Linked DNA regions of Homo sapiens. The protein of the gene in region 1 interacts with the protein of each later gene in a pairwise test. Each region holds a gene or a part of one and is shown in the gene's direction. Other genes may lie near its edges.

Region 1 (3,500 bases):
TCTCGGTCCAACTATTAGGCCAGGATCCTGGGATCAGAAGGTTTGAAGACTGATTGCAACTTGGTTCAGATTCTTGGGACAGAGAGGATTGAGGGCTGCCCTGGTAGGAGTTAGGAAAACCCAAGGCCTGTGAAACCCAGCTCAGCATAATGCTTCTGCAGCTTCGTTGCGCTGTGGCTGGAGGAATGAATCCCATTATGTGGCATGGCGTGCCCTAGGTTGATGTTCAGAGACACTGTGGAGTCAGCTTGTTATAGCCTGGTGGGGGCCAGGCAAGCCTCTCCCAGTCACAGTAAAGCTGCTCTGGGCCTAGGCTTGGTGTCTCGGTGTTCTCACCTGCCTCAGCACCCACTCCCAAAGCACATCCCTGCGCAGCTTCCATCCTGAGAACCTGTGCTCATGGAGACGCTCAGCACTGGTCTCCCCTCAAGAGCCTCCTCATTTCTTTTCAGGGATTCCCACCTGCAAGGCCATTGATTGCATTTCCAAGGTGTTCAGCAGCTGATGCACATAAAACCCGGGCTGAGCCTTAGCAGAAGCTCTTTAGAATCAGCTAAGACTATTGGGGACCCCTTATTCCTCCCAAGGGGCCCAATGCTAGAATATTCTCTGAGGTCTCCCACTTTCTTAATTGACCGAGTGGGGTTGCACAAGTGAATCCATACAAAAATGGTTAATATCTTTATACTCCCTCTTAGAATTGATCATATGCAAAATAATTCATACAGAACTCTGTGTTTCAAAGCTGGTGGAAAAGATTTGCACTCTGTTCATTTCGGGTGGGAAGATAAGGCACCTCATTCAGAATGGATGCTCCACTAGCAGGTAGCTCATGTCTTGGAAATCACGCTGCAGGCTCGGCCCTCCAACAAGCCACATAGAATTATTTACCCTAAGGTACTTGGAGTTTTAAAATAAATTGATCCAATTAAGTCACACAAATAGAATTTCTCAAATCCATCTAGCCTGCAGCCACATTTCTCTGGCTCTCTGTGCCAAATAGGATCCTGGCATTACTGCTTCCTATTTCTCTCCTTCCCTTTTGCTCCCTACAGCAGTAATTTTGTGGGAAGTGGCCTAGTATCTTTAGCATCTGAGGGCCGCTGCCACTTCTCAGAGCAAGAGAGATCCTCTCAGGGTATTCCTCTGGGCTGCTCATGGTGGAGGTCATGTCGCCCCGAAGGAGAGACCATGGAGGATGTTCCCCAGAAGCAACAGCGGGAGGTGGTGTTCCCGGTCTCTCCTCGTCTATCTACAATGCAGCATTTGACTATATCCTTCCCATTTTATACCTTGTGTCCCGGGCAGCTCACTTTGGAGGCTTATTGAGAACTTGAGTTGGTGCACGTCATTTTGCTTGAAGCAGATGTGGCGGTCACGCAATGCCTTTCTTCCCAGGTACCAGCCAGAGCAGCCTAACCTGGTATACCAGATGGCCAGTACTTCCGACGAGTTAGATCCAGCAGACCAAAATGAATTGGCAAGCACCAATGATTCCCAGCTGGGCTTTTTACCAGAGGCAGAGATGTTCTCTTTGAAAACCATACTCTCACCCAAAAACATGGAGCCTTCCAAAATCTCTGGGCTAATTGTGAACATTTCAACCAGCCTCATAGGTAAGAGCTAGCCCTTCCCTGGGGCCTTGCTTGTTGGCATTGCATGGTTTCTAGGCAGTGGAGCTGGAGTTGGGGGAAGGTGCCAGAGAAGATGAGCATCTGTCTTGCTCCTGGACTGGGACATAGTTACTCTGTGTTAACTGTAGTTGTGCCTTCGGAAATGGAGCCTCTCTCTCCACAAGTTTAGGGGAGAACAGTGGATGCCTGTGGGAAATTGGGAAATGGTTGAGTTGCAGCTTGCTGTCTTTTCCTTCCCCCTTAGCTGTTCTCATCATCACCTTCTGCATTGTGACCGTGCTTGGAAGGGAGGCTCTCACCAAAGGGGCGCTGTGGGCAGTCTTTCTGCTCGCAGGGTCTGCCCTCCTCTGTGCCGTGGTCACGGGCGTCATCTGGAGGCAGCCCGAGAGCAAGACCAAGCTCTCATTTAAGGTGAGCAGCTCGGCCTAGGGAAGGAACCCTGGTACACAGACCCTGGCCCTCCTGATGCCTGGCCAGCCCTGCGTGGGCTCAGCCGGGCCTGGGTGCTCCCGAGGAAGGTTTTTGCTAGCCAGCTTCAGGTAAGATGGGGCAGGGGTCCTGAAGGCACAGAGAGGACCAGACCCTGGAAGGAGGCAGCAGCCCTTCTCCCCTGGACGTTTCCCTGAGTAGTCAAGGGCAGGCTGACACCTTCCTGCATGACACAGGCCAAGAGAGACCTCGCCAGTCCCTGGATATTCGGCATCTATTTCTGAATTCTCTGGAAAATAAATGTCCCTTGTGATCAGTGTTTTATGAAATGTGCTGCCTCTTCCCCAGACAGTATCAAGGGTGCTGCTCATGAAGCCACTTGCCCCTAAGTTTATACATAATAGCAGACCCAGTGGAGCAGTCCCTCCGGGGTGGTGGGATGCTTCTCGTAAATGTCTGCTCAAGTTGATGCATGAGTTTTCCAAGCCTTGGAGACGGGCAAGGCTTCTGCATTTTTAGATTACACAAATAATAAAAAAGGTTGTTGACCTTAGAGGTAAAGTGGAGGTCCGTCTTCTAGTCCTTTCTTTAGCAGGAGAATCGCAACAGAGAAAAATGAGAATGGAGTTCATTTGGCCATTCAGAGCTTAGAATCAAATCCCCACCTACTAAGATGTACCCTTGGGTGTGTTTGTGTGTGTGTTTGGGTGCGGGCTGTGTGTGGGGTGTGGGAGTGGGGGTGGGCACTCCCTCTCTCTTCCCCACACTCGCCCGACGGTCCCTGTCACTCTCAGTTGTGCTGCCTTTACTAGACAGTTTTACTGAACTATTGGAACCGGCGCCACTGCCATGGATTGAAGCCACCTCCTGTCTCTTCAGGTTCCCTTCCTGCCAGTGCTCCCCATCCTGAGCATCTTCGTGAACGTCTATCTCATGATGCAGCTGGACCAGGGCACCTGGGTCCGGTTTGCTGTGTGGATGCTGATAGGTATGTGATGCTGCTGCCAGCACGTCCAAGATCCTGGCTTCCCCTGGGGGTCTCCCTTGTTTCAGATTTCATAACAGAATGACGCACATCCAGTCAGCAGCTTTCTCGAAGATAATGCTGAATCCCTGGTAGGCTGTGAGTCCTCTCCTCCCTGTTAGATACTTTTTGTTTCCATTGCTTCTTGTCCAAACTATTTATTCTTTTGGGCAAGACCTTGATATTAACAGGAACAAGGTGATGAGTCTGCTGCAGATAAGGTACCAGTTATTTTCACCCCAGACAGGAAAGTCTGGCCTGTGCCTCCTGGCCCCCTGGCCTGCCCAGCACCAAATTGGTACGGGCACTAGGCCCAGGCAGGGTGGATGTCATGGGCTCCTCTGTGATTGCGTCTTCTCTGTGGAGGGAGAGTGCTTTGGAGCCTATGGGAGATGCCACTAGGGTGGGGAGCT
Region 2 (2,920 bases), on another chromosome or scaffold:
GAAAGTAATAACTAAAGGGTTAATGTGCAACGTTATTTTTTGGCCTTGTTCATGATTTTATGTTTTCAGTGTCCTGTGTACATATAGAATTGTTAAAGTTGTCATTTCCAATATTTATATTAGAAAAATTATTTAGATACTTTATAATTTTAACCGGCATTTTTAATAATGACACTTGCATTTATTGTATTGTAATAAATTTCACTTTTAACTTTAAAAGTTTAACTTTAAAATTTTTTTGTGATGTTGCCTTGCCTGAAAAGATAACAAAAATGAGAGAATTTCTTGATGTTTTAAAATGGGCAGTTTTGAGCAATAATCTGTCCTAACAGAACAGTAGCAATAAGTTTTAGGATACCATCTTGAATGTCTAGTTGGTGTGCAATAGCTTTTCTTTCTAAGATGGCAATAATGATTCATTTCTACTACATTTTGCAAAAGTGTTTTTGTTGCTTATACACATTTTCAATAACCAAGGTAGCCTTCATATGTAGCCTTAAAGCATTACCTCTTGATTGTATCTTTAGATTGATATAAAGTACTTGCATATAGAGTATTTGAAGTGATAGATTATTAGATTTGCTCTATGTCTGAAAAGAGAGCTATTCTGCAGTGCCTAAATATCATTTAAACAGTAAATATTAATAGGAAATATTGCTATATCTGAATATATAATACAAAAGTTTGATCATGGTGACACAAATGTTGGACATTTTTTTCCTTATAAAAGGCTCTTTTTTTATATATTGTACAATATATTTGGAGATTCAGAGCATAGTGACTATAGTCGAAAACTGAGATTGCACTTCCAAAATTGGCCACAAGTAAATAATCTTATGAAGGGATTCTTTATCATGTTTCAAACAAGTGGGTTACAAGCAGACTTTGAGACACTTTTCCACAGAAACAATACTATGAATTGGTGATTGAGTTCCCAGGCCAAGCCTCCCTCAACAGGTTCAACTCTAATATACCTAACCTGTGATACTGAAGGTGCCTGCCTGAGTTTTGGGTCTCTGAGACAGGGTAGTGTGAGTAGTTTGGAGGAAGGACAGTGCAACTTTCCACCCCTTTTCCTAAGAACAAGGTCTTTCTCCTTTTAATTTTTCCACTCATTTTCACCTCCTAATGCCCTTGAGATCCAGGTACACTCCTGGGAGTTTTGTTCACCTCTCCCAACTGAGAACCTTCCCACTGGGCTCCATCCTCCCTCCTGAGGTTCTTCATATTCCAGAGTCACCCACCCTTCTCCTCCCATTAGTCAGTTCTCTAAGTACAGCTGATGTCATGTGGTGCTGAGAAGAAAGCAGATCACACTTCATCACAGAAAGAATGCCTTGTGATTATCTTCTCCACATCTGAAATTCCTTTTGACACCTGCATTGGGCCGACTGCCATTCCCATGACTGCTGCACCTGCGTTTTTAGAGAATGCCTCATAACCCACTGATTCTCATTCACAGAGAATGGGAGAACGGAATGAAGAAAGATTCCAGCAGCTTATAGAAGGATAGCAATATTTTGGGACAGGGAAAATCCTGTCATACCTCATCTCTTCCTCAGGAGGAGTTCTGAGCTGGTCCTGCTTTTCATAGTTGTTTCTTTTCTTCCACTTAAGAACTCATAGATTTTTCTTACTGTCCTAAGGAAGTCCTTACCTCTGAGGTATCTCCTCAATGAATACTGTTTTCAAGGCTGAAATAGTTCATTATGTTAATAACCTTCTTTATGTTCTCAGGGAAATGCTTAGGTGGTGTCACAAAATGTGCCTTTTCTTTTCTTTTTTTTTTTTTTTTTTTGAGGCAGAGTCTCGCTCTGTTGCCCAGGCTGGAGTGCAGTGGTGCGATCTTGGCTCACTGCAAGCTCCGCCTCCCGGGTTCACGCCATTCTCCTGCCTCAGCCTCCCAAGGAGCTGGGACTACAGGCTCCCGCCACCACGCCTGGCTAATTTTTTTGTATTTTTAGTAAAGACGGGTTTCATCGTGTTAGCCAGGATGGTCTCGATCTCCTGACCTCATGATCCGCCCGCCTCTGCCTCCCAAAGTGCTGGGATTACAGGCCTGAGCCACTGTGCCCAGCCAAAATGTGCCTTTGCAAAGTTTGCGAAATCAGATTTTGTATCCCAATAGAACCAAAATATTTATGAGGATGCTAGCATTTTCCAAGCATAGTAATTAGTTCACAACTGAGAAATATTATGTCTGTAGTAGATAAATATTAGTTGTGCATTTTAATTTAATTCTCCTTTTTCCATTTTGTCTCATGAAGTACCTTATTGCAAAAATCCCACTGAGTAATAGCTCATAAATTATAATCTTTCAAATAGCCATGCTACCAGCGTACAACAGTGATACATGTAACCCCAAATGTGATGTGAGAGGACGATTACTTTGTAAATAAAACTTGTTATTGACATTTTAACAAAGGCTTTTATGTACATTATTAAATGAAAAAGTTTATATTTTACTTTGCGGTACGTTACATTTGGAAAGGAGATCAGCAAGTTAATTTTCCCAGTGTTTTTGTCTGTATAATCTTAATGTGAATCTGACCAGTTTGAAGCCTGTACTTGCTGTAGTTGAAGAGAAACAGTTCAGGAATGTTGTGCTGACTGGAAGGAATCCAGGCCTTAATTTCTGTGGCTGACACTCCCCATGGTGGACATGGAAGATTGGAAAAGCTGTATTGGAAAAGAAAAAAACCTGACACCTTAAGAAAAGTGCTCTACATATTTTGAAGAGTCTTTTTGCACACTACAGAAAAGAATGCACTAATAGAAAGTAGTCTTTAAGGAATAATATGTCCTCCTTATGCACAAAACATTTGGGAAAGATCTGATGTTTTACTAGTGGATTTAGGCAGCCAGATTGTAAAGAAATCAAGCTAGTTATTTCTTTGCATTGCCAAGCTAAGTGTAAAGT
Region 3 (3,500 bases), on another chromosome or scaffold:
AGCACAAACTGGAGCCAGACTGCTTGGGGGTGTGGGGATCTGGCTGTGCTCTGTGATCGCTGTGTGACCTTGGGCAGGTCACTTAACCTTTCTGGTACTGCGTTTCTTCATCTGCAAAATGGGAGTAATATCATAGGGATGCTGTGAGGATCTAAATGAGTTAATACTGATGAACTAACTGCTTAGAACAAGGTTTGCCCCTTACTAAATACTGTGCACGGTGGTAATAAGTAATAATAATTGATTTCTCCTACTTTTCTTCCTCTAGTCTATATCACTACCCTTCAGACACACTGGACTCTTTTCTCTCCTTCATACAAGTCAAGCCTTTTTCTGTCTCCAAGTCTCTGCTCTTGCTGTTTTCTTTACCTGTGTTCTCTCTCACATATCACTTTATGCTCTTCAGATCCTTTGTCGCAATGTCACCCTTATGTTTTATGGTATGGTCCTGCTGTGTTTTTGTCTTCCCTGACTGCATGCTCACTCGTGCTCTCTCTCAATCATGCGCTCTCTCTCTCTCTCCCTCCCTCCCTCTCTCTCCCTCCCTCTCCCTCCCTCCCTCCCCCCCACTCTCAACTGTGTATTCTAGAGAGTCAGGACCTTCCTTCTCATTCTTGATCATTCTCATAGTAGCCCTGCCCCTTGAGTGGAACATGGCATTTAGTAAAGGATGAATAAGGGAAGGAATCATTCTGAGAAAATACTGAAGATGATAGCTATGGACTTGAGGCAAGCATCCCATTTAGGTAAAATGCTTTGTCCGACATTGAATTTATCATATCAGCTTCATTTAATGCATTATGAGATGTTGTCTTTATTTTTCCTTCTGTATCCCATGGCTTCTCACCATTCCCCTCCCCCTCCACCCCGCCCTCTGAGGTTGCTGCCTGCAGACCATGGGAAACATCCAGTGGGTTGTCCCTGGGATCACATCTCTTGGGAAGCTCAGCTCCAAAGGGTCTAGCAAAGCCCAGGGCTTCTAGGTTAGGTATCTCCCACAGAACCTTCTGTGTCAAGAATCTGGGAAAGTTTGTCCTTATACCTGCAGGGGAACCTGGAATTTATTCTGTCTTGTTATAAATCTAGTATTCTTAGATTCCTGAAGAACAGAATTACCAGTTTTTTCTCAGAGGAGATTTCATCAGGCATGTGTGTTTAGTGCCTTATTACACAGAAGGCACACTCCAGAGAAGAAGAAAGCAGGTAATTTGCTTATTTGGCTTTAACAGAGTTTCAACAGAGTTCGTGTGAGTGCAAGCTTGTGCTCTATAACCAAGAACCATTCACTGGAACTTGAGCATCCTGCTGATCTTCCCTCCCCCACTCCCAGCCAGTGCAGCCATGTATTAAGCAATTGTTTTCAGTACCAACAGTTTACCAAAGTGTTGGAATAAAAACGACATCTAAAACTTGAATATTTTATATGGCCAAACTATGGCTATTTAACTATACAGTTGAATATATTTGGATTATAACATATTTATCTCTTAAAGGGACAGATCTTCCATCCTCCTAACATATAGTTAGCTTCCACTCTCCAAATATTCCACCAGCAACATTGATGAATATTGAAGACTATGGACTGTGAGGTACTGTGAAAGACCCACTCTAGGACCTGCTTGCTGCTATTTGCCTTACTTGAACCAGTAATCAAGTGCTGGATAAATAATATGATTTCTATTCAACTTTTTGTTTTTAGCCCTTAGGGAACAATCTACTGAATATGCAATGCAATTGTCGGGGGATAGTTACTTTTCATTACCTAGGTTTCTGTTCCTTCTTTTAAGTGTAATTTAAATCTGGCTGTCATGAAGGTTTGGCGCTCAAACAGATTTTAGCATCTGTTTAATGTAGAAGTGGACTGGAACTAGCATTCTGAAAATGTAGTCTGAACCCAAAGAAATCCCATGACTCTCCTTTTCTGTCCTATCATAGAAACAGATAATTACATTTTTAAAGTTTTTGTGTGTGGGTGTGTGTGTTGTCATTTTGAGGTGGGGTTTCACCATGTTGCCCAGGCTAGACTCAAACTCCTAGGCTGAAGCAGTCCTCCCACCTCAGCCTCCCAAGTAGCAGGGATTACAGGTGTGCACTACTGCACCCAGCTTAAGTTTTACTTTGTTTCTAATAGATATATAATATTGGATATATTTATGAGATACAGTGTGATGTTTTAGTACGTATATACATTGTGTAATGAGCAAGAGGATTGCGTTTATGGGCCAGGCACGGTGGCTCATGCCTGTAACCCCAGCACTTTGGGAAGCCAAGGTGGGTGGATCACCTGAGGTCAGGAGTTCGAGACCAGTCTGATCAACATGGTAAAAACCCATCTCTACTAAAAATACAAAAATTAACCGGGGCGTGGTAGCACACACCTGTAGTCCCAGCTACTTAGGAGGCTGAGGCAGAAGAATCACTTGAACCTGGGAGGCAGAGGTTGCAGTGAGCTGAGATGGCACCACTGCACTCCACCCTGGCAACACAGTGAGACTCCGTCTCAAAAAAAAAAAAAATTGTTTTTATGTTACTTCCCTCTAGGCTCTTTAATTTCTCCATTGAGCATTGTGTGAGCTCCGCTGAGCATTGTATGGAGGGTCAGCTGCCCTGGCTGGAGATGGTTTTGAGGCTTGTTCCTTCGTGGAAACATCTGGATGCAGAAGTTAGGCTGTACAACTATCCAGGGGAGCTTTAAGTGAGCCAAGTGGACCCTCAGCACCACCTCAGAGTGTTCTAAGCTACCGTCTGGTGTTTGGGACTCAGGGAAGTCCTTTTGGTATGATCAGACTAGCCCTTTATGTGACTATCCTTGTGTGTTACTCTCATTAAAATATTGATTTTTGCCATGTAAGGAAGATTGGAATAGCACAGGCAGCCGAATAAGGATTTTAATGAAACATTGGAGAATGGCTTCAAGTTAATCTGTGAATGCTTTGTCATTGTCCCATCCCTGGACACATTAAAAAGAAAAAAAAGAGCAGTTGAGAAATTGCAGTACAATTTGAGGAGAGCAATATCATACACAGAAGTAGGGACTACTTTTGTCAAAGCTGGATTTTATTTATTTGGGAGCAAAGAGAGAGAGCTGAAAGACATAATCTTCTCTCCCTTAAGAATCTCATTGTCATTTAGTAAAATAAAAGGTAGTGTCACTTCATGGCTCAGAAGTGGTAAATTATTTGAGGCAGGTACCCAAATCCATAAAGCCTGCCTTTTGCTTTGTTTGTGGAATGCTGATTGTGTGCTGGGGAATTTCTGATGGGCAGCCAAGAGGAATTTGGGAAGTAGTGAAGGAGACCTTTACCCCAGGAGTGTTCTATTGGATGTAGTTCAGGAAGCTTTCTGGGTAAGCCTTGCAACCAAAGGAACCCTGCCCCAGTAAGATACGTCAAATGGTGGCAGAAGCAAGAATTAGAGGAAAGGTTGAGCAACATTTTGGTATTTGAATAGCTGTGTTCCCAGGAAACTCTGTCAGTAAAATTTCTAGAGGTTAAGTACCT
Region 4 (3,500 bases), on another chromosome or scaffold:
CGATAGCCGTCCGCTTTGCCAAGACCCTGCTGGCCAACTCCTCTCCCTTCAATGTAGGTGAGTAGGTCACCACTACCCCGAGCTGGGAACATCAGAGGCATCGTGAACTGAATGGTGGAGCTGGCAGGGAAGTGACAAAGGAGAGCGTCCCATGGAGGAGGAGCTAAGGATGTGAACGTGCCTGTGGATGGGAGATATTTACCAGATGTTTGTTGGGCAGGTGAATTGAGGAGTAAGTGAAGGAAGAGGGGGTAGTATTATGTAGAAACAAGGACAATTGATAATACTTGATATGTCTGGCAGCTACAGAATCTCCGCTGGGAACAATAGTAATGCCATTCAAGTCAGAAGTTCTTCCCAAATTAAATATGAATGTCTTGCTTCAGTTCTCCTCTGCATCCTCTCTTTAATCACTACTGATGCTCCCACACTCCATTCTTTTCGATGCTTCTCCTCATTACATCCAAATATCCTCTCTCCATTAAACAGCTACTCTCGGAACCCTAACTCGTGATATTTCCCTTCATGGCAACTCGGGGACCACCTTGCGTCTTTGTTCTGCAAGCATATGGCTGCTTGTGAATAGAAGCTTTTCCCTCTACAACATCATGTCCTCCTTCTGTCCCCTTCTATGGATAATGATCCTTCTCTGTGGGGGCCACTGTCACAGCCCGCATTCATGATCACCTTTTCTCCTCTGCCAACTCTCTAAGCAATAGTATTATCTCAGGTTTTCACTCCCTTATGCATGCCCCATCAGCAACCTCTCTTGTTTCAGTTTCTGTCAGACAAACAGGTGAACCACTGCTCTAGGATCCTCCCTGGGGGTTAAGAACAGACTGGTCTCCCTTTCACATCTGGGACCTCACACATTTCTGGGGCATCTCTGCCTCCAAAAATTTGGACTTATTTACTTCTGGTTGTCAGTAACACTAGCACCCTTAACGAAGTTATGCAACTTTCAAATGGAGATTTGGCCCTGCTGCTTACTTAATTTTTCTGAGCCTCCATTTTTTGTCTCTTAAATGGAGATGATTACAGGTACTGTTTCACAGGTTGTTCTGAGGAGCAAATAAAATCATGGAGCCAGAATATAATAAGCACACAATAAATGTTAGCTGTTCATATTGCTGTGATGGTGACTATGGTGATCTTATACCCTCTGTCATTCACAGACACAGGAGCAATGGCAACCTTGGCTCTGACCTGTATGTACAACAAGATCCCTGTAGGTTCAGAGGAAGGTTACAGATCCCTGTTTGGTCAGGTACTAAAGGATATTGTGGAGAAAATCAGCATGAAGATCAAAGATAATGGCATCATTGGAGACATCTACAGTACTGGCCTCGCCATGCAGGTAAACACGTGCTGGATGCTCTTGGTTGGGTTCCTGCCAATAAGCCTGGATTGCAGAATCAAGAGGCCAGGCTTCTACTAACATCTCTGTGAAAGTCCAGCTAGTATGACCTGAGATATATTCTTTGTGGTGCCTGGGCCTCAGTTTCTCTACTGGTAAAATGCAGGTAAGTGTTAATTCCTCCCTACCTCCTATGTAAAGTGTGAAAACAAATCTATATGAACTTGTTTCTCTTTCTTGGGAAAAAAAATGAAACAAATAAATCAAGAAATATATTAATTTATTATTAATAATGATCAGTTTATTTGTAATAGTTACAGACTATTACAATTTTGATGTATAAATAATAAGAATATTAAAGCAGGCCCTCTAAAAATATACAATTTTCTGATGCAATCTTACCAGCCAAGTGTTCTTTTTCAGTGTTTTACCTTGATCTAAAAATAGCAAGTTTATACTCAAAATGATTAAGGAAAATAACCTAAAGTTGACCCAGCCTCACAAAAACCCATAGTAAATGGTAAAGCAGATCTATCTGTCAGCCAAGTCCATATTCAATTCTGTGCTTTCACAGCATGCATTCCCAGGCTTGGATTCTGTAAGATGTGTTTGGTATTCATAGTTCCAAATCCAACAACCCACCCTACCCTAGTTGATTAGGGCAGCAGCCTCCATAGAAGACAGATGCACCAATGGTGGTGGGCAGAAATAACCAACTAGAATCAGAAACTAGCAACCATCTGTGGCTGAATCCTCTAATCCCAACTAAGAAGTTTGAGCTCCAGTGTCTCAAAATGTCCTATGGGGATTAATAGGACCAGGGACTCTTCAACTCAGAAAGCCCACTAAAGGGAGAATCATGGAATGGTGATGCCAGCCCTAAACCTAACATAGTTGCGGACTATTAGAAAGAAATTGTCTCCTGGGGAAAACAATGGAGACTAGTATTGAGATTTCATACATTAAAAATTAGAAAAGGATATAAGCAGCCTAAGAATTGGTTCATGTTAAACATAAGAGCAAAAAAAAAAAAATTTCCACTTCAATGGACCACATATAGAAGTGACTAATAAAAATAGAGTTCATTTCTATGTCACAGTCAAGGAGACTTTGTCATAGAACAAAACCCTGTTTTTTCCATGGCTGAATTTTACAAGAACATTCCCAGTGCTCTGGTCTAGAAGCTTTTTGGAAAGAAAAAGGCAGTCTGGAAGAGATATAAAAGATGGTTTGGGGATTTTTTTTTTTTATGTGTGACTCTCTAAAAATAACCTTGCTTCAATTTATCACCAGACAGTGAAGTGTTTACTTTTGCTAACTTGGTTTGTGAATTCTGTTTGGATTTTATCACCTGCCAAGTACACTTTGATAAGCTGTACCTGGGAATTAGAGCTTTTCCTATCAAAAGGCAGGACCCTGTCTACATCCAAATACCACAGGCCATGTGGATTTCTTGTCAGAATACATAATCTCTCCCTACCCTTTTTACTGCCTCTATCTGGAACTTATTTAGGCATCCTGAAATCTGGAATCAATAGGTGTCTAATATATAATATTTTCCTAATCTAAAATATTCTGATATAGAAAATCAAAGGGCTCTGGAACTATCACAATTTAGGTTTGACTCCCACACCTGCCACCATCTCAGACAAATATTGAATTTCCCCAGATTTTATTTTCCCCATAATAATAAGGTTGCAATTAGGTTAAATAAAATGTGGTATGCAAAAAAATGCATGCATAATGTAATGCTTAACAATTGTTCAAGATCTGTCTCAGCAGAGCAGTGATGCTAGTAAAGTTCCTTTTCAGCCTTTGTTCACCTTCTTCCAAGATGTCAGTACACTTCCAGTGGCCCAGGCCACACTCTTCCCTACCCAAAGACGCTCATGAGGCATTTCCTCTGTTCCAGAACTTCTCATCTTTCTTCCATGAATATCCTATTGCTTTCAAGTTTCCTCTGATAGGCGCTTATCTTGAAAAGGGATCTGATAGGCCAGGCGTGATGGCTCACACCTGTAATCCCAGCACTTTGGGAGGACGAGGCGGGCAGATCACTTGGGGTCAGGAGTTCAAGACCAGCCTGGCCAATATGGTGAAACCCCATCTCTACTAAAAATACAAAAATTAGCCTGGTGTGCTG

Evidence for each region. Proteins that work in one complex are often made in the same cells at the same time.
Region 2: the proteins of SLC7A1 (region 1) and LEPROT interact in binary tests that used the Homo sapiens proteins (3 or more experiments, as listed by UniProt).
Region 3: the proteins of SLC7A1 (region 1) and MGST3 interact in binary tests that used the Homo sapiens proteins (3 or more experiments, as listed by UniProt).
Region 4: the proteins of SLC7A1 (region 1) and CBLIF interact in binary tests that used the Homo sapiens proteins (3 or more experiments, as listed by UniProt).

What each region holds. Positions count from the first base shown.
Region 1 is NC_000013.11:29,515,689-29,519,188, reverse strand, and holds part of SLC7A1 (high affinity cationic amino acid transporter 1), read left to right. Parts: intron 1-1,398; coding exon 1,399-1,616; intron 1,617-1,878; coding exon 1,879-2,045; intron 2,046-2,942; coding exon 2,943-3,051; intron 3,052-3,500. UniProt on the Homo sapiens protein: High-affinity, low capacity permease involved in the transport of the cationic amino acids (arginine, lysine and ornithine) in non-hepatic tissues.
Region 2 is NC_000001.11:65,433,588-65,436,507, forward strand, and holds the end of LEPROT (leptin receptor gene-related protein), read left to right. Parts: 3' UTR 1-2,420; downstream 2,421-2,920. UniProt on the Homo sapiens protein: Negatively regulates leptin receptor (LEPR) cell surface expression, and thus decreases response to leptin. Negatively regulates growth hormone (GH) receptor cell surface expression in liver.
Region 3 is NC_000001.11:165,634,234-165,637,733, forward strand, and holds part of MGST3 (glutathione S-transferase 3, mitochondrial), read left to right. Parts: intron 1-3,500. UniProt on the Homo sapiens protein: Displays both glutathione S-transferase and glutathione peroxidase activities toward oxyeicosanoids, as part of cellular detoxification as well as synthesis of bioactive metabolites.
Region 4 is NC_000011.10:59,839,000-59,842,499, reverse strand, and holds part of CBLIF (cobalamin binding intrinsic factor precursor), read left to right. Parts: coding exon 1-57; intron 58-1,175; coding exon 1,176-1,357; intron 1,358-3,500. UniProt on the Homo sapiens protein: Promotes absorption of the essential vitamin cobalamin (Cbl) in the ileum. After interaction with CUBN, the CBLIF-cobalamin complex is internalized via receptor-mediated endocytosis.